Homo sapiens: one gene and its partners. The protein of the gene in region 1 interacts with the protein of each later gene in a pairwise test. Each region holds a gene or a part of one and is shown in the gene's direction. Other genes may lie near its edges.

Region 1 (3,512 bases):
TATGAGCACATGGCCGGCCCCTAATAGATGTTAATGTTAAAAGTCATGATTGAAAGGAGTCAAGAGAAGATTGGCCGAAAGAGAAAGAGGGATCATCAAAAAAAGTTATGGGTGGAAAAAGAGCTTGAAGCCGGCTGTGCCGCGTACCCCTCCCACCACGAATGTGTCCACATGCACCAACGTGGCACTTGTCCTTCCAGCCATGTACCGCGGCAACGCTTGCTGACCCCAGTGAGGAGAGAGGCCTGAATCCGAGGGCCCTGGCACCTGTGAGCTCTTGGCTGTCACCTGCCCCAAGCCTCGCACCTCCGCTCCACAGCAGGTGCTTCCTGCGTTTCCTCCGCCTCTCACCCGTCCTCTCCACCCCCACCCCTTTCTCTTTTCACGCCTGCTGGCTGAGGGCCCCCTCCCTCCTCGGCTCCATCTGCTGCAAATCTGTCCCCGCCCGGCTTTGCAGCATTCCCACTGCCTCTGCCACCTGTCAGGTGCCGTCTGCTCTGCAGACCCCTCCGAGGAGAGCAAAGAGCCCCCCGGGCAGGCACCCCTTTCCACCCTCCATCATCCTTCTCCAGCCTCCCCTGTACAGTCTTTCCCATCTGGTTCATGAGGCATGTGGATTCCAGGGGTCCTTGAGGTTCCGCCTCGAAAGGGATATTGGGAGGAGGACATTCCAGAAAGCTCGCCGGGGTCAAGGGATGTACTGACCCTTTCCCTCCTCCTCAGTCCCCACAGGAGACAACCCTGACGGGAGCATGGAGCTGCTGTCCACGCCCCACAGCATTGAGATCAACAACATCACCTGCGACTCCTTCCGCATCTCCTGGGCCATGGAGGACAGTGACCTGGAGAGGGTCACCCATTACTTCATTGACCTTAACAAGAAGGAGAATAAGAATTCCAACAAGTTCAAGCACCGGGTGAGTAGAAGGTGTCCTGGGAGCCCCTCCCCAGCTTCTGTTCCTGAAGGAGGCCGGATAAGGGAACACCTGGAAGTGATGGCTTGGAGTCAGAGGCTGGTTAAAATCCACACTCTTCTTCCTGTGTCATTTTGGGAAAGTTACTTGACCTCTCTGAGCCTGAGCTCCTTCCCTGGTAAAGAGGGAATAACAATGCCAAGCCTCACGGGGTCGTGGAGAGGATGCAGTGAGTCATGTTTGCGTGGTGCTTGGCCCGGCGCCTAGCACAGAGGGAGCGTTGTTATCAGCGCCACAACTGAGACTTCAGGCAGGGGCAGAGAGCCCGGGTAGGGTGGGGCCGCAGGCTTCGCCTATGGGGATGACGTCTCAAGTCTCGACAAAGCCCCGGCTCAGGGCACAGCCTCGCTGTTGGCTGGGTGGGCCACACGGGCCTCGGTCGGGGCGGAGCCCTTTTGCTGTGGCCTCAGTTCTCCCTCTCGGGCCCCTCACCTGCTGGCCTGCCATTTGCTTGACTTAGAAAAGGAATGGGAGAGAGTCCTCCGTGGGTGTGTCCTTTCCTGGGGTTAAAAGCCAGTGTGGGGGTGGGTGGGAGGAAGACCCCCATCCTCTCAAGCTGGCAGAGGCAGGGGGAGTGAGGCGGCCAGCTGGCTCCCAGGCCGACGGCACCGGCGTGGGTTACTCACCCGCTCTCTTTCTCTGGAACCGGCTCTCCCGATCTGGGTGTCTTTTGGCAGGCCAGTTGCCACGGTGACGTGAATGTTCAACACCACCCCCTTAACCCTCCCCCCCAAAGAATAAGGCATATTTTCCCTTCCTCCCTGGCTTCTCAGCATTTGCCGTTGCCGTGGAGACGGCACTGCAGTGTGCAGAGCTCTCAAAGTCTCCTTAAAAAATGAAGGCCTTGCCGTCCTCAACTTTGTGGCTTTTCCCCTCCGTTCCCAAGAGAACGGGGTGTCAGGGGGGTTCGAGGAGGGGCCAAGGCTGTGGAGTGTCTGGGTGGCCTTCCCAGGAAAATGGTGGCCAGGGTATGGAGCCATTGGATCCTCAAGATTGGTCCTGCTCAGGAGAAACAGGGCCATCTGGGGAGTGGGGATTCTGGGGTGATGCCCAGATTGGGCATGAACCCCTGTTTGACGCCTGGCTCTCTGTTTGTACCCTGTTTCTCAGGACGTCCCCACCAAGCTCGTGGCCAAGGCAGTGCCGCTGCCCATGACGGTGAGAGGCCACTGGTTCCTGAGCCCCCGCACGGAGTACAGTGTGGCCGTGCAGACGGCAGTGAAGCAGAGCGATGGGGAGTACCTGGTGTCCGGCTGGAGCGAGACGGTGGAGTTCTGCACTGGGGGTGAGGCCCTGCTATCACACCCCTGTCCTGCTGCTTGGCACGTCGGGCTTTGCTGTGGTCAAGGCGGGTCTTCCTCGTAGTCCAGCAAACACTGATGAACACCTTCTGTCCACCAGGCAGCGTGCTTGGGCCACAGGGGAGATGCACGGGCATGACACCCTCCCTGCCTCCAGGAGCCCAACCTTTCTCTTCTCTCACTGGAGGCAAATGCGAACCCCACTAATCACGCTGGCAAGACCACTTCCATTAAGAAAGGGAGTTACTTTTCGGGCTTGGTACCAGATCACAGGCATCTTTTTAAACCTTGTGGTCAAAGGTGCATGACGTAAAATTTGCCGTCTCGACCATTTTGAAGTGTACAGTTCAGTGGTATTAAGTATATTCACATTGTTGTACAGCCAGTCTCCAGAACCTTTCTTCCTGGAAAACCAAAACTCTATACCCATTAAATAACCGCCCCCCATTTCCCTCTGCTAGCTACCATTCTACTTTCTGTTTCTATGAATATGACTCCTCTAGGTGTCTCATATCAGTACAATTGTATAGGATTTGTCTTTTTGTGACTGGAATATACCAAAATTTCCTTCCTTTTTGAAACTGGATAGTATTTCATTGTATGGATAGACCACATTTTGCTTAATCAATTATTTGTCAATGTGCACTTGGTGAGGCAATCACATTTCACTTGTTCTGAGCCTTCACGTAGCCTGGGAAAATGGCCCCTGGTCAATGGCCCCGCAAACTCTCTTAGCAGAACTTAACTTGTAGACTCCATCACAAACAAACAGTGGGCCTATGTGTGCTTGGTCCCTCACGACTCAGGGTCTGCCCCCACAAGATTACATTCTTTTGGTGTTCACGGTGAGAGCTGCTCCAGATCTCTCTGTCACACAGAAGAGACACGGAACATTCTCAGCCCCGGGCCTCTGAGGCTGCTGGCTCTATCCTTTGCCAAGATTTATGCCCCAAGTCTCCTTGAGCTGCTGTTGTCTTTTGAGTGGTGCTTTTTCTTTTTTTTCTCCTTCTGCCTTTTTTTTTTTTTTGAGATGGAATCTCGCTCTTGTCGCCTCCTGGCTGGAGTGCAGTGGCGTGATCTCGGCTCACTGCAATCTCCGCCTCCCGGGTTCAAGCGATTCTCCTGCCTCAGCCTCCTGAGTAGCTGGGATTACAGACGCCCACCACCATGCCTGGCTATTTTTTTTTTTTTTTTGTATTTTTAGTAGAGATGGGGTTTCACCATGTTGGCCAGGCTG
Region 2 (3,512 bases), on another chromosome or scaffold:
GAGGCTACCCCTTCTCAGAAGGCCCACAAGCCAGCAGTGCCTACCTACCCCTGGGGCAGGGGCTGCCACAGGCCAAGTCTGCAGCCTGTGGGAGGGTCTGGGGCTGGCCCTGGCCTTGAGGTCAGTGGGGAAGCAGGATGCTCCCTCTGTGGTTTCAGAAGAGAAGCTTCTGTCTGACAGCATGCTGGTGGAGGCGCGGGAGGCCTCGGAGGAGGACCTGCTGGTGGTGCACACGAGGCGCTATCTTAATGAGCTCAAGGTACAGGATGTCGGGCCTGGGGGGCTGCGGGCCTGGGGCAGGGGGCTGCTGGCCAGGAGTGGCCAGAGGCAGGAGGTGACTCAGCCTGGGGAAGCCAAGTCTCACAGGGCACCCATTCATGTCCCTAGTGTTGGAGGAACATGGGAGTCTGTGGTCCCCAAGAGAAGGAGAGAGGTCATAAAAAGGCAGACCTCAGTTTGGGCCAGGCCACTCTGAGGGTGGTGTCCTCCCCTTCTCCAGGGCGTATGAAAGCCTTCATAGAATTTTAGGCTTCTACATTATGACTTTCAAGCTGTGCTCTGTCGACACGCCTCCGAGACCCCAGCCCCTGTCCTCCAACCATACATAGCTCTTTCACTTTGGTCTATTTTGTTTGTTTGTTTGTTCATTTTTTTGTTGGTTTTTGTTCTTGAAATGGAGTCTCACTCTGTCGCCCAGGCTGGAGTGCAGTGATGTGATCTCGGCTCATTGCAACCTCCGCCTTCCGGGTTCAAGCAATTATCCTGTCTCACCCTCCTGAGTGAGTAGCTAGGATTACAGGCGCGTGCCACCATGCCTGGCTAATTTTTTTTGTATTTTAGTAGAGATGTGGTTTCGCCGTGTTGGCCAAGCTGGTCTCGAACTCCTGAACTCAGGTCATCTGCCCACCTCGGCCTCCCAAAGTGCTGGGGTTACAGGCGTGAGCCACCGCACCCACCCTATTTTTTATATTGGGCTGAAGTTTAAGACTCTGGTCTAAGTACTTCTGCTGAAGTTTTGTTGAAAATTGTTGGTCTAAAAACTAATTTGAAACCCTCAGGGCTCAGCAGAGAAGAGAAACAAGTGGGAGGGCCGGTGGTAGAGTCTGAGGTGAACTCCTGCCCCTTCCCAAGGGGCGGCTCCTCAGCTCCACTGTGGGCCCGGCATGGCCAGAGCACCTGGTCTTCAAAGAGAAGCCAGGAATCCAGATTATTAAGTGACATTTCCTGATTTTTTTTTTGAGACTGAGTCTCGCTCTTGTTGAGCAGGCTGAAGTGCAGTGGCACGATCTCAGCTCACTGTAACCTCCGCCTCCCGGGTTCAAACAATTTTTCTGCCTCAGCCTCCGAAGTAGCTGGAATTATAGGGGTGAGCCACCACACCCGGCCCTGATTTCTTAATGTGGCACTCATTATAAGATTGTAAAAGCCCACCTGTAGACCAAACTGGGCACACTGGCTGCCTGCTTGTGACCTCTTTCCAGAGAAGGACACAGCTCCTATTAGTGGCTGAAGTTCTGAGGGCTGAGGCATTCAGTTCAGTGCTCTTTGTAGGAACAGAGGGGAGGTTGGGGCGGGGGCTTGCATTGGAATCTGGTACTGCCAGCCTGCCTTGGTGGGGGTGGGGTCAGGGATGCCTCAGGTTATCTGCCCCAAGAGTGTGGGAGCCCTGACCCCCAGGCTCCCTGGCTGAGCTCACCTTAGACTCAGAGCCACAGTGGATGCCTGAGGCCAGCAGGCCCCTCTGCTCCACAGGTGGAAAAGCCTAGGTCCAGAAAGAGGCTGTGCTCAAGGTCACCTGGGAAGTTGGCCGGGCCTTGGGGAGACCCCTGGCAGGTCATCCAGTCCAGTCTTCTAGGTTCCCAGTCAGGGCTGCTGCCTCCCTGCTCCCCAACCGCAGCCTGAGGTGTGAGAATTCTAGATAGGGCCACGACAGTGTGAGCACATGAAAGATTACCAGGAAGAGGTTGAAACCTGGCTCCTGGGAGAGAGAGGGGTGTGAGGCCTTGGCAGGAAGCCCAGTGCTTGGCTGCCCTGGTTTCCTGGGGCCCAGGCATGCGTGGTCACAGTCCACAGCCTAGGGCTGGGCCAGGAGGACATGCCTGCCAGAGTCCCGAGGGTGAGGGGAAGGAAGGGACAGGAGGCGCTCAGCTGGGGCAGGGAGAAACCAAAACAGAATGGTGTGATTGAACCAGGCTGGGGGTGGGGGGCCTAGGTTCCAGGGCCCCACCCATTTGAGGGGCCTTCAGGGGAACTGTGTTGGGCAGGCTGCATGCCTGGCCTTGGTCCCCCAAAAGCCTGAAAGCAGCTTACTATGTGATATATAATAATACAAAATAGCTGGGTGTAGTGGCATGCACTTGTAGTCCTAGCTACTTGGGAGCCTGAGGCAGGAGACCTTGAGCCCAGGAGTTTGAAGCTGTAGTGAGCTATGATTGCACCACTGCACTCCAGCTGGTATGACAGAGTGAGACTGTCTCTTAAAAAAAATAATAAAAGTATTAACAGGTAGAGTCCCAAGTAGAAAACTGAGGTTGAGGGTAGGAGGAGAATTCAGGTATGTCCACTGAAAAAGTTAACCAAGATGGTGATCCAGCTGCATATTTGGCTTGGAGCTCCCTGGCAGTCAGAACAAAAGGAGAAACATGATGGTTTCTACGGCACCTATTAAGATGAAGAAGTAGGCCGGGTGCAGTGACTCATGCCTGTAATCCCAGCACTTTGGGAGAACGAGGCGGGCGGATCACTTGAGGTCGGGAGTTTGAGATCAGCCTGGCCAACATGGAGAAACCCTGTCTCTACTAAAACTACAAAATTAGCCAGGCATGGTAGTGCATGCCTGTAATCCCAGCTACCTGGGAGGCTGAGGCAGGAAAATCACTTGAACCTGGGAGGTAGAGGTTGCAGTGAGCCGAGATTGCGCCATTGCACTCCAGCTTGGGCAATAAGAGTGAAACTCCATCTCAAAAAAAAAAAAAAAAAAAAAAGAAAAAGATGAAGAAGTAGTCAGTCATTCAACACATCTGTATTGAATGCCAACTGTACAGAGAGAATAAGACAGCAGGGCTCTCTGCCACCATGGATTTGCATTTGAGTCGTGGAAGATTAAAATTAAGGAAGCAACCACCCAAGAGCATTTTAGAGAGCACCAAGGGCTATGAAGAAAGTGAAAAATAGAGGGTAATTGGATGGTCAGGGAGGGCCTCACAGAGGAGGTGATGTTTGAGTTGAGACTAAACAAAGGAGCAGGTGATACTCATGTAGAGGTGTTTTTTTTTTTTTTTTTTTTTTTTGGAGAAGGAATCTCGCTTTGTTGCCCAGGCTCGAGTACAGTGGTGCGATCTCAGCTCACAGCAACCTCTGCCTCTTGGTTCAAGCGATTCTCCTGCCTCAGCCTCCCAAGTAGCTAGGATTACAGGCACCTGCCACCATGCCCGGCTAATTTTTGTATTTTTAGTAGAGACGGAGTTTTCACCATGTTGGCCAGGCTGGTCTCGAACTCCTGACCTCAAGCA
Region 3 (4,176 bases), on another chromosome or scaffold:
TACCTTCCATTCATACACAGGGGTCCTGGTGAGGCTGACATAAAAACAAATATAAAAATCTACTACGAATTTTACAAACAGTCCAGGTTCGACTGCAGATGAGACCACAGCATTTTCTGCCTCAAAAGACATCCAAGTGGAGATGTCACGTAGGCAGGTGAATGTACTATGCACTTGGACCTCAAAAGTGAAGTTTGAACTGGGCTTGTAGATTGTGGAGTAATTAGCTCAGACACACAGGTGTCTAATTGTCCTGGCGGACACCAGGAGGGTCTCAGCGGCAGCGTGATTGTATCGCTGATAAGGAAGAGGCCTGACAATCTGAGTAGAGAGTGGACCCGGTGGAGCAATTCTCATACCTGGATGGACCCACATAGAGCCGCAGAGGCTGGGGGCGAGGCGGGGGGAGGCTCTGTCTCCCTGTGTCCTGAATGCGGAGCATGAACTTAGGCCTTCTACAGCACAAACCTTGCTTCTTTGGGACAGATGTTGGGGTGGGGGAGGCCTGTCACTCAGACGGAGGAGGCGGTGCCTCTGTCCCCAGGCCAGCAGGAGCAGGAGGTGGACTTTGGAGTCCGGAAGACCCAGGTTCAAATTTTGCATTTTCTGTTTCCTGGCTCTGTGGTCTAGTTCATGCAATGTGTCTGTGCCTCAGCTTCCTGACACGCCAAATGGGGATGCTGACATCCACTTCCCAGCGCTGCTGTGAGAGGAAGAAAAGCCCCAGCACAGATCCCTCTGTGACATACAAGCTGCATAAAGGGTAGCTGAGGAAGCAGATGTTCCCAGTATGTCTGGGGGCCAGAGAGTTGGCTAGTGGAGAAGCACACAAAGCGAAGTGCCATCCTCTGGCCATGTCCATTTCGTAGCCCCGCAGGTTGAGGATTTCCACTTGTTGCAGTTAGAGACCCAGCTTATTAATTGTGAGACCTCACTAATTGTGACCTAAGGGGTCTTGCCGGGGAAACGGGGCATAGTGTATCCCAGACCAGGCTGGAGGAGTTTGGGTGAAAGGGCAGGGCAGGACAGAGAAGCATTGTGCAAAAGTGGGGGGACTGAGAAGAGATGATTGGGTGGGTCGAGCTGCACTGCAGGGTATGAGTGTGCGCGCCCGCGGTAGGAGGAGGAGGAGGAGGAGAGGTGAAGTGGATCTGGCGGGAAGAGCCCCCCGCACCCTACCTTCGACCCCACCGCCCACCCACCCGCGGAATCGCATGCGCACTGGAGACCTGGAGGAAAGGGCTTTTGTTGGGAAAGCGGGCGGGCTGGAGGGGTCCGCGCATGCGCAGGCTACCCAGCCGCGGGGGGTGCACGGAGAAAAGGGGCGGGGTGGTCCGGGCTGCTGTGCTGGCAGCAGTAGGCGAGGGCGCGGCTGCGGGGTTCCTGGTGCTGAGGACGGACGCCATTGGAGTTCCCGAGAAGGTAAGGATCCAGCCCCAGACAGGACCGGGAGAGGGCGAGTGGAACCCGACACGCTGCGCCCTCCCTCCGCCTCCGGATCTGAACAAAGCCCAAGCACTCAGAACCGGAACCCCATTAGACCCAAGGTCTAGATAGGAGCCCCCATCACCATCAGACCCAGGCGCCCCGATCTGAGCCCTACTGAAACCGGAGCCCAGGATCCTCACCCCTTTAGCAGACCCGTGTGCTCCGAGCTGAGCTCCCTTGGACCTGAGGCCCCACCCCCACCCCAACCACTCCTAGATTACTCGAACCGAGCTGACCGCTTGCCCCCTTCCTGGAGTGCCCAGTCCTCGCGTTTGAGATCTGCAGCGCTCCGATTGGAGCCTCACCTAGGTCTGAGGCCCCCACTCCATCCGCCTCTAGTGCTCGAGTCTGAGCCCCACCTAGGCCCCCCGCCCGGACCTAGCCAAAGGTCCCTGGGGTTCTGTTTCGCAGAGCTTGCGGCTTGCCACTGTCCCTGTTGTCTGAGCTCTCCCATCTGCTCCCCCTTCATCCCGGTCCCCTTCTCTGGCCCGTAAATCCAAACCCTTTGTTTCTCTCTTCCCCAATGCATTCCCTTTGGGACTCTTCGGACCCCAGCCCTCCAGAACACCCCCTCGTCAAATCTAGCCGCTGGGATGGCGAGCCTGCCCATCCTAAACTCCGCTTTCAGTGCGGCGCCTCCTGCGACCTCCTCTGTCCCTTTCCTTGGGCTCTGTCCCTGACCAGGTCTACCCCATCAGAAAGCCAAACCGTCTCCCCCCCGCTCCTCCTCCCCCCCCCCGCCCCCTACTGCCTAATATTGCCTAGTAACCTGATGATTGTCGCCCCTCACCTCCCGGGAGATCCCGCCTCCCATTGGATCCCGCCCCCTCCCCCTGCAGCTGCTTCACCCTCCCTCTCAGGCTGAGCTCTCATCTCCCTGGGACCCGCAGCATGGCTGAGGGAAGCTTCAGCGTGCAATCGGAAAGCTACAGTGTTGAAGACATGGATGAGGGTAGCGACGAAGTCGGGGAGGAAGAGATGGTTGAAGGCAACGACTATGAAGAATTCGGTGCGTTTGGTGGCTATGGCACCCTCACCAGCTTTGACATCCATATCCTCAGAGCCTTCGGAAGCTTGGGTCCAGGCCTTCGCATCTTATCGGTGAGGCCCCTTCCTGGACACCTGCTGGCCTGGGCCTTTCCCCTGTGAATGGGGGAGGGAGGAGGGGGGAGCCAGGAGGGTTGTGTGGGAAAGGACTGCCCAGCTTCCCAAGCCTTCCCTCCCCTGCTCGGAAGAAGAAGATTTGGGAAGGTCTTGGGGTGTTCAGGGCTGACTGCTGGGAAGAGGCTGGCCAGCACAGGGAAGCTAACACAAGTATGTCGTCGAGTGGCCTGCCTTCCCCAACCCCTCTCTCTGGCCTTGCAGAATGAGCCCTGGGAACTGGAAAACCCTGTGCTGGCCCAGACCCTGGTGGAGGCATTGCAGCTGGATCCGGAAACACTTGCCAATGAGACGGCCGCCCGTGCTGCCAACGTAGCCCGCGCCGCCGCCTCCAACCGTGCGGCTCGGGCCGCTGCCGCCGCTGCCCGTACCGCCTTCAGTCAGGTGGTCGCTAGCCACCGGGTGGCCACGCCGCAGGTCTCAGGAGAGGATACCCAGCCCACGACCTACGCCGCCGAGGCTCAGGGGCCCACCCCTGAGCCACCCCTTGCTTCTCCGCAGACCTCCCAGATGTTAGTCACCAGTAAGATGGCTGCCCCCGAGGCTCCGGCAACCTCCGCACAGTCCCAGACAGGCTCCCCGGCCCAGGAGGCTGCTACTGAGGGCCCTAGTAGCGCCTGTGCTTTCTCTCAGGCTCCGTGTGCCAGGGAGGTGGACGCCAACCGGCCCAGCACAGCCTTCCTGGGCCAGAATGATGTCTTCGATTTCACTCAGCCGGCAGGTGTCAGTGGCATGGCCTTCCCGCGCCCCAAGAGACCTGCCCCAGCCCAAGAGGCTGCCACAGAGGGCCCCAGTGCTGCCTCTGGTGTGCCCCAGACGGGACCTGGCAGGGAGGTGGCAGCCACCCGGCCCAAGACCACCAAGTCGGGGAAGGCGCTGGCCAAGACTCGGTGGGTGGAGCCTCAGAATGTTGTGGCAGCAGCTGCTGCCAAGGCCAAGATGGCCACGAGCATCCCTGAGCCGGAGGGTGCAGCTGCTGCCACTGCTCAGCACAGTGCTGAGCCCTGGGCCAGGATGGGAGGCAAGAGGACCAAGAAGGTGAGATCCCCCTGCCCCCTGCCACCTCCACACCCCCTTGCTCCTGTCCTTTCCTTCTCCTCCCTTTCCTGCTCCTCTCCTCCCTCTCCTCTCCCCCTTCTTCCTCTCTTCTCCTCTTTCCCCTCCTTCTCTCCTCACCTCCCCTCTCCTCCCCTCCTCTCCTCTCAGCTAGTCCATGTTTCTCCAACACAAGTTTGCTGAGCATGTTTTCACTCCACGTAGTCCCTACCCTCAGGACTGGTGGGAGAAGAGGCTGGCTCAGTGCCTGGCACTTAGTAAGCACGCAGCACATGCCAGCCGCTGCTGGTACTGCTCTCATTTCCAAGAGCCTGCTACGGGTGAGGTGCGTGCCGGGTGCTTTGGCACGGGGAGCCTGGTAGCCCTGGGTCTCTCCTCTCTCAAATGATACAGTCCAAGCACCTGGATGATGAGTATGAGAGCAGCGAGGAGGAGAGAGAGACTCCCGCGGTCCCACCCACCTGGAGAGCA
Region 4 (4,307 bases), on another chromosome or scaffold:
AAATGCAATAATTACAAGCATCAGTAATGAACGCAGTTTTTGCTTAGCTTTAATTCTGTAAAGTGTACTTAATTTTAATCTAGAAGTGTAGAAGTATTACATACATCCGAAATCATGTTTTTTTCTTCTACAGTCGAAAGTTTGTATTACATGTAAAATAGGAAAAAAATATTAAAATTTTTCGAAAGCGAAAAGTCTACTCAGCAAGTTTTTGGTATTTATTAATGGTTTTACTTTTGCTAGACACAAAAATGAAATACCGCTAAATTAGCTCACAGAAGAGTTCAGGATTCTATAGACTCAGGAAAAGCCTGTCCTAAAACTGTTTTAATAAAGGCTGAAAATAGACACTATAATACAGTCTTTAATAATATACAATGTGTATTCCTCCTGATGGTGGTCTTGCTTGACATTTTAAGCATAGCCCTATTTTCCTGTGAAGATAGCAGCCAGTTCTGCTTCATGTCATAACAACACTTGATTCATGTAAGCAGCTGCTACCTATGCCATCACAGTACACATAATTGCTAAATGTAGGGTTCAAATAATCGTAAATGGACACTAATATGAAAATCAGACTGTTTTGTTGTAACAGCAAAAGTTTTAGAAACAAATAATTTTAGTATCTACTTAGTACAGTAAGCATGAACATATAGTATACAGCTAGGCACAGCAGTAAATTGTTGGAAACACTAACATTTATTGTTTACGAACATACATGCAGTGTTTACACATTTCTTAAATGTTGTCTTTAATGCTGCTGATAAACGAAAGGATAAAAAGTCCAACAAACCACAATAAATGTCAATGGGTGTTATTAACAACATGAAAGAACTCAGTAGCAACAACCACATTTAAAGCTACAGGACTCGAAAGTTCCGGACTACAAATCCCAGAGTTCCCTAGAGCCCAGGCGGAGCTACCTTCAAACTGATCGCTTTTTCACCCAATGACAGCCAGAGAATCCCTAAACCACATTCAGCCCGGCCTGAAGGGCTGGTTTCTTCGCGTGAAAACAATAAGGTATTACGTAGACTTTCTGAACACGAGTGGTAGTTTCAGGGCCTGAGTCTAACTACTAAATTATTTCTCCCCGCATTAGTCTCCTAGTCATCTTAATAACTCTCTACCCAACTCTGGCTCGGTGGAAACTCGGAACGTCTAAATGCTGAAACTCACGTAAATCAGTACCAGCGGATGCATCCAGTCAGCCACGAGGAAGGCGGAATCCGCCTTATTCTTGCCCTTTATTGGCCACGCATCCCACCAATGGGGCCATTAAACTTCCGCTAACGCAGCGTACGGCGTGGTGGTGTGAGCGTTGTACGTACGCTGGGTCTACGAAGGGGCAGGCGTTCTGCTTTCGTCCAATCGGAAGCTAGCAAGAATTCCCCGGGCCGCTATGCCCCACTTCTTTCGCGTCGCGTTACGGGCCGCCTCTCTGCAGCCGACCAATCCTCTTGATTTTCTTGTGCGCATTACCCAATCAGAGAGGTCGAGGCGGGGTTCCACTTGACCGCTCTAAGCCGCCGCGCAGCCTGCGTTTTCTCCGGTACAGGTTGAGGCTACTAAGGTACATTTTGCTGGGCCAGGCTGGGCGGGTCCCCGGGATGGGCAGCCCTCTCGACGAGCGGCGACGCCGTGGTTGAGTCTAGAAAGCTAGAGTTGCTGGACAGCTATCGCGGGAGCGCGGAGGGAAGTGGGAGGTCTGGACGGAGTGTGCACGTGTTGGCAGTCTCGCTCCGCCGTCGGAGCCACCAGGTCAAACCTGTGCTGGCCCTGGCCAAAGAAACTTCTGCGGGTCAGGCTGCTGTTGCCGGTGCAGTTCCCAGTACTTCCTCTGGGGCGTTTTTCAATAAAAGCCAAACGCCCTTGCTCATTTTCAGGGAAAGACCTGTTTCCTCCTGCTCTTTCCTCTCCACGGATACTCTCCCCACCACTAAAAGGGTTTAGTATAATCCTTTTGTAGGCCAGAAAGCAGATTTTCACTTGGGAAGAGACGACCCGTAGTATGGGATGTGGTATGATACCAGCAACTGGTCTATTATATCATTTAAACCACATGGCTATCTAAAGAGGTAGGTACTGTGAGTGTTCTCATTTTCACGCGAAGCAGTGTTAGACATTACTCATTCTTGTGTTTTCTTTAGCTTGTCTCTGACAAATTGTGGCATTCAGCTTCCATGGATGTAAAATTAAAAGATGGTATAATTTGTAAAATGTTGCTCCTGTTTTCTTTTTTGTTTTTCTTTTTCTTTTTCTTTTTTTTTTTTTTTTTTGAGATGGAGTCTCAGGCTGTCGCGCAGGCTGGAGTGCAGTGGGGCGATCTCGGCTTACTGCAACCTCCGCCCCCCGGGTTCAAGCGATTCTCCAGCCTCAGCCTCCCGAGTAGCCGGGATTATAGGCGCCTGGCACCACGCCCGGCTAATTTTTGTATTTTTAGTAGAGACGGGATTTCACCATACTGGTCAGGCCGGTCTCGAACTCCTGACTTCAGGTGATCCACTCGCCTCTGCCTCCCAAAGTGCTGGGATTACAGGCGTGAGCCACCGTGCCCGGCCGTTTTCTTTATTAATTTGAAATTATTTAAAGTCAATAAAAGCCTGGGCGCGGTGGCTCACGCCAGTAATCCCAGCACTTTGGGAGGCCGAGGCGGGCGGATCACGAGGTCAGGAGTTCGAGACCAGCCTGGTCAACATGGTGAAACCCCCGTCTCTACTACGAATGCAAAAATGTGGCGGGCGCCTGTAGTCCCAGCTACTCGGGAGGCTGAGGCAGGAGAATCGCTTGAACCCGGGAGGCAGAGGTTGCAGTGAGCCAAGATCGTGCTACTGTACTCCAGCCTGGGCGACAGAGTGAGACAACGTCTCAAAAAAGAGAAAAAAAAAAGTCAATAAAACACACCTAGAAGTGAATTAATCGATTGTTACCAAGGTAAAATGATCTAGAGGAAAGACATCGCAGTAGGCACCAGTTACTGACCTTTGACTGGACAAGTCAGCATCAGCTTTTTCACCTGTATAATTGAAATAAATACCAAACTTGACTACTTAGAGTTCTGAGGATTAAATAATTTAATAGATACAAAATATGTTACCGATGAAAGCCACGTGACTGTTTCTGCTTTTCAAATTCTTTCTTGTGGAGCCTGGACTGCACTGCAACCTATGGCCGAGTAAAACAGTGGTAACTTGCAGTCAAGTACCATTTAAGTGAGAAATCCTCTGAAACGTCTATGGACTGCTTATCTCCTTGTTCAGTATTCAGGAATACTTTCCTGTGAATGCAGCTATGTTACTTACCTGGTTTGTATTCTTACCTTAGATTGTTGTAGCTATTGTAAAGCAAAAGTAAGATCAAGCCCATGTAACTACTTTTTGGGTTCTTTTCTCTCACTTTGTAAATACAGGGTGTTTTTCCAGACGGGAGTGCGGTGGCACAGTCTTAGCTCACTGCAGCCTCGAACTTCTGAGCTCAAGTGATCCTCCTGCCTCAGCCTCCCAAGTGGCAGGGATTACACACGAGCCACTGTGCCAAACCCGTGAAGTTTTTGAGTTGTACTTTTGTACTAAAGTCATGACTACTTTTTCTGCAACTGACACTATGAGCTGCAAATACGACTGAAGATGCTACTGCTTTTTTACTTTTTCCCTATGTGCTTTAAAGAACTACATTTTCAGTGATTTCCATGTGTTTAAGATATTTTCATTTACTTGGTAGAAAATACAAGAGAATTTTGATAAATCTGAACTGGAATGGTCTTTATGTTAATTCTGTTCAATATTTTAGGGCAGATTATGTACAGATTATCGCCAAACTGTCAAAAGGGTGTATTTTGTTCATATAGCTACTGTAACAAATTACAACAGATTTAGTGACTTCGAATAACACACATTTATTCTTTCTGCCTTTGTTTCTTTCTTTTTTTTTTTTCCTTTGGTGAAAAGTACACACTTAAGAAAGGGGAGTGCAGATGTACTCAAGAGAGTCACCTCTTCCTTTTTTTTTTTTTTTTTTTTGGTAGAGATGAGGTCTCGCTATGTTGCCCAGGTGGGTCTCAAACTCCTGGGCTCAAGCAGTCCTCCCACCTTGGCCTCCCAAAGTTCTGGCATTACTGGCATGAGCCACCATGCTCAGCCTCATTTATTGTCTTTTAGTTCTGGAGGTCAGAAGTATGAAATCAGTTTCACTGGACTAAAGTCAAAGTGTTGCAGGCCCAATTCCTTCTGGAGGCTGTGAGAAGAAAATCCATTTCCTTACCTTTTTCAGCTTGTAGTGGCTGCCTGTCTTCCTTGGCTTGTGGCTCT
Region 5 (4,230 bases), on another chromosome or scaffold:
CGGGCCGCGGGTGGGTGGGGGCCTTGAGGAGGGGGCCGGTGTCGGGAGAGGGAGGAGCCTGCACCGGGAGGCGGGCCAGGCAACAGGAGGGAGCGGGAATGAGCAGGGAAGGGGCCAGACCGACTCCGGTTCGCTCCCACGGCCTGCCTGCCTTGGGGTTTTGCAGGGCAGACGCATGGTCTCGCCGCTGGCTGCCGTGTGCCCACTGCTCAGGGTGGCCGGAGACGCACAGCCCCGGGAGGGGCTGGGCAGCCCGATGCCCCCACCACTCCAGCCCTCGGCGACTGGCCTTGCGCGCCCACACACACACTCCCCTCCGCCTACACCTCTGCCTTCACAGTCCTGGGAGTGGCCCTGTGCTGGGAACCTGCTTCTCCCAGCCGTGTCCCCATCTTCTTAAAGAGGTAGCCTTTCGGTCCTGGCTAAGCACCCTACCACAGAATTTTTGTCGGACATTGACTCCCCTCTTCAGTCAGTCGGCGAAGGGGGACTGAGGTCCCGTTTGGGGCACCTGTGAACACTGAATCACCTCTCACCTATTACAGTTGTTTTAATGTCCTGCCCCCACTCAGCAAAAACAAATCACTCTACTCTGTGGAGGGAAAGAGGAACCCAGAGGCAGGCCATCAGGGCTTCCTTCCCACAGTGCTGACCCCTGCCTGGGCCTCGGTTTCCGTGGGTGGCCATGCACACCGGGCCTGGCCGTAGTCCTGTGCATCAGAGGTCGGCCAGCTTCCTTTACTCCGGTGTGGTGGATTTCTCCACGCATAAGGCAAGGCAGGACTGGGTTTGGGATGGGTCCTGGACCTTCAGGGCAGGTGGTCAGTCACACAGGCCTTGGTGTGGTTGGTACTTGATGTTCTTTGGAGCTAAGACTGGCTGAGATTTGTACTTCCCTTGAGGAATTCTGGGATTTGTAGTCCTAAGTTAACCTCGTGGCTTTTGAAGCTGAGGAGCAGCTGACTGCTCTGATCTCTCTGGCCCTATCAAGGCTTGGAGTTCAGGAAGTCATCACCTTCTCTTGTCAGGGGTGAGTTTGGCTGACCTCAGGACTGGCCTCGAGAGCCCTGGTTAGGTACCAGTTGGGGGCCAGGGATGGCCTGTAACCTCCTGTTTTCCTTCTGGTTGGTAGCATTTCTGGGGACCAACAGCTGGCCGAGGCTCAGGGATAGAGACGGCTGCTCCAGCTAAAGGTCAGTTGTGATGTACATTGCCTGTTGGCACTGTCTAGGGAATGGGCCTCAGCTCCCCGAGTCCCAGAGAGCTTGGCTGAGCCCTGGTGTTCCCACCTCCTCAGAGCCATGAGGCAGGAATGTTCTCCTTATGTGACTAGGCACAGGTTCCAAATGGGGAGGGGACTGGCTCAGCATCCGGAGCCAAAACAGGAATAGAACTGGGAGCTGAGCCTGGAGCGGTTCTGGGCTTTTGGTTCTCTGCATCAACACAGCCAGCATGCCTATGATTTCTGTGCTGGGCAAAATGTTTCTGTGGCAGCGTGAAGGGCCTGGAGGACGATGGACTTGTCAGACAAGTCGCAGAGGTGAGACCAGGGATCATGGATGTGATCTGGGAGATGATGGGAAGCTGAGCAGTAGGGTGCTTAGGTGGAAAAGGAAAATTACTCTGGCTTAGATATTAAGAACCAGGCTGAAACAGGGAGAACCAGGCTGGGGCCAGACAGGGCATCAGGAAACGGCTTCAGGGGACAGGGGTGAAAATCAGAAAAAATATCATGAGTTCGTCAGAAAAGAAGAGTAAAGAGCTGTGGACCAGCTGAGGCTGGCGAGAGGAAAGAAGGCAGCAGGAAGAGAGAAGGAAGGCAACCCTCCTGCAAAGGGTCCAGGGTGGCGGTGGTGGGGGGGACAGTGATGGCGGAAGAACTCAGTGTGCTTTCCAAGAGGAATGGGTAGGCTGGGAAACGGGAAGGAGAGTCAGAATTTATCATTGTTTGGTTTCACCCTAGGGTTTTGAGGCAAAATTTATCCAGAGCAGGAAGGTGGCAAGTGGGCTGCCACAGAATGGCCCCAGGGGCCCGAGGGTCAGTGATGTGTGGGATGGGGGCTTTTAGAGTTGAGGAGAGCACTCAGTGGGCGCTGGTCTTCTGGAAGGTGGGGGAGGGGCCGAGAAATGATACGGCAATACTGGATGAAAATGGGGATCTCTGCAGAAGTAGGGGCACAGCTCAACAGCCTTTCCCCTTCCTCTCAGTGTCCTCGGACCCCGCTTGGGCTGTGGAGTGGATCGAACTTCCTCGGGGTCTCTCTCTATCCTCTTTGGGATCTGCTCGAACCCTCCGAGGCTGGAGCAGGTCCTCCCGCCCTTCCTCGGTGGACAGTCAGGACTTGCCAGAGGTGCTGGGCCCCTGGTGGTGGGGGGAAGGAGGACGTCATCCATATAAAGGGGATCTGCAGCCCCCACCCACGCCTGGCCAGCCAGCTTCTGGCTCCCTTTTCCGGCGGGCGGAGGCGCTATCCGGCGGCGGGCCGGGAGGCCGCCCCCGTGCCGGTCTGCTCTGCTCGGCGCTGTGCCAGCAGGCGGAGAGCTCGCGCCTTCCGCGCTGACGTCAGCGCATCCCGGGCCGTATCCCGGGAGACCCTGTTGCGTGGTGATGGGTTGCCAGGGAGACATACACCTTTTCTCTGGGCCTGGGCCGCAGCTGCGCGGAGCGCCGGGCACGGATGGCGGCGGCTGAGGGGAGCGAAGCGAGGGAGGGAGAGCAAGCTAAGAAACACCCAGCAGGTGCTCCCCCGCCTAGGCCTGGCTGGAGGCTACTGGCGCCACCCTGGGGGCCCTGTCAGCCAGGTACCCAAGGGGAGGGATCGAGGGTGGGCCTCAGGTCAAGGGGCAGTGTTGGCTGCCCTTGTGAGGGACGGGAACGTGATAGAAGAGAGCTGGGCAATGCCGGGGAGGGATGTGTGCCTCCAACTTCATTAAGTGAGGGAAACATTTGCTGGGGCTTGTCAGGGAGCCCTGAGCCAGGTACAGGGTGGAGTTAGGAACTTACGTGCATCAGACTTAGGCCTTGCCATCCTGAGCTCCCTCGGGAGACAGACAAGGGCAATGATGGGGGCGGGGTGTGTCAGAGAAAAGAAGAGGCTGTCGGCTGAAAGCATTATTTGCAGGTGACACTTGAGATGGGCCTTAAGTGATGGCAAGCATTTTTTCACGTAAGGATGGCATTCTTGGCCCAGAGGAAAGCTGAGTTCCTTTTCCTGGAGGCAGGCGGGCTGCTTGCTGACAGGGATTGGTGGAGAAGGGTTTTTGTTTTTTGTTATTTATTTTTATGTATTTATTTATTTGAGACGGAGTTTCGCTCTTGTTGCCCAGGCTGGAATGCAATGGTGCGATCTCGGCTCACCGCAGCCTCTGCCTCTGGGGTTCAAGCGATTATCCTGCCTCAGCCTCCAGAGTAGCTGGGATTACAGGCATGCGCTGCCACGCCCGGCTGATTTTGTATTTTTAGTAGAGGCGGGGTTTCACCATGTTGGCCAGGCTGGTCTCCAACTCCCGACCTCAGGTGATCCGCCTGCTTCGGCCTCCCAAAATGCTGGGATTACAGGCGTGAGCCACTGCGCCCGGCCTGAGAAGGGGGGTTTTATTGGGCAGAGGAGATCAGCAGTGGATTCAAAGGAGGCTTGGAAGGAGGCAAGGGTGTCACAGAGTGGGATCCTTCAGGGCCTGGGTATGATGCCTGCACTAACCTCACTGGACAGTAGCGTAGGCTAGACAAGATTTTAGAGATGTGTTGTGACCAGCTGCACTCCAGGAAAACTGTTTACATTATATCTTACCTCATTCATCCAGCCTTTGCATTTTTGTTTGCTTGTTTTTGAGACAGAGTCTTTTTCTGTCGCCCAGGCTGGAGTGCAGTGGCACAATCTTGGCTCACTGCAATCTCCGCCTCCTGGGTTCAAGCAATTCTCCTGCCTCAGCCTCCTGAGTAGCTGGGATAACAGGCACCCGCCACCATGCCCTGCCCATTTTTTAAATTATTTTTAGTGGAGATGGGGTTTCACCATGTTGGCCTGGCTGGTCTCAAACTCCTGACCTCAGATGATCTACCCACCTTGGCCCCTTGGCCTCCCAAAGTGCTGGAATTACAGGCGTGAGCCACCACGCCTGGCCCAGCCTATGCATTTTTTTTTTTTTTTTTTTTTTTTGAGATGGAGTCTTGCACCGTAGCCTAAGCTGGAGTGCAGTGGTGCGATCTCGGCTCACCGCAACCTCCGC

The links.
Region 2: the proteins of PHYHIP (region 1) and HDAC11 interact in a two-hybrid assay, tested with the Homo sapiens proteins (one large-scale study listed by BioGRID and IntAct).
Region 3: the proteins of PHYHIP (region 1) and MAGED4B interact in a two-hybrid assay, tested with the Homo sapiens proteins (one large-scale study listed by BioGRID).
Region 4: the proteins of PHYHIP (region 1) and WDR89 interact in a two-hybrid assay, tested with the Homo sapiens proteins (one large-scale study listed by BioGRID and IntAct).
Region 5: the proteins of PHYHIP (region 1) and FAM131A interact in a two-hybrid assay, tested with the Homo sapiens proteins (one large-scale study listed by BioGRID and IntAct).

The regions. Positions count from the first base shown.
Region 1 is NC_000008.11:22,225,598-22,229,109, reverse strand, and holds part of PHYHIP (phytanoyl-CoA hydroxylase-interacting protein), read left to right. Parts: intron 1-200; exon of another isoform or gene 201-322; intron 323-723; 5' UTR 724-752; coding exon 753-917; intron 918-2,084; coding exon 2,085-2,259; intron 2,260-3,512. UniProt on the Homo sapiens protein: Its interaction with PHYH suggests a role in the development of the central system.
Region 2 is NC_000003.12:13,483,306-13,486,817, forward strand, and holds part of HDAC11 (histone deacetylase 11), read left to right. Parts: intron 1-158; coding exon 159-259; intron 260-3,512. UniProt on the Homo sapiens protein: Responsible for the deacetylation of lysine residues on the N-terminal part of the core histones (H2A, H2B, H3 and H4).
Region 3 is NC_000023.11:52,066,376-52,070,551, reverse strand, and holds the start of MAGED4B (melanoma-associated antigen D4), read left to right. Parts: upstream 1-1,368; 5' UTR 1,369-1,422; intron 1,423-2,327; exon of another isoform or gene 2,328-2,348; 5' UTR 2,349-2,379; coding exon 2,380-2,589; intron 2,590-2,853; coding exon 2,854-3,687; intron 3,688-4,098; coding exon 4,099-4,176. UniProt on the Homo sapiens protein: May enhance ubiquitin ligase activity of RING-type zinc finger-containing E3 ubiquitin-protein ligases. Proposed to act through recruitment and/or stabilization of the Ubl-conjugating enzyme (E2) at the E3:substrate complex.
Region 4 is NC_000014.9:63,639,070-63,643,376, reverse strand, and holds the start of WDR89 (WD repeat-containing protein 89), read left to right. Parts: upstream 1-1,505; 5' UTR 1,506-1,573; exon of another isoform or gene 1,574-2,078; intron 2,079-4,307.
Region 5 is NC_000003.12:184,336,179-184,340,408, forward strand, and holds the start of FAM131A (protein FAM131A), read left to right. Parts: upstream 1-1,421; 5' UTR 1,422-1,452; coding exon 1,453-1,540; intron 1,541-2,208; coding exon 2,209-2,351; intron 2,352-2,654; exon of another isoform or gene 2,655-2,802; intron 2,803-4,230.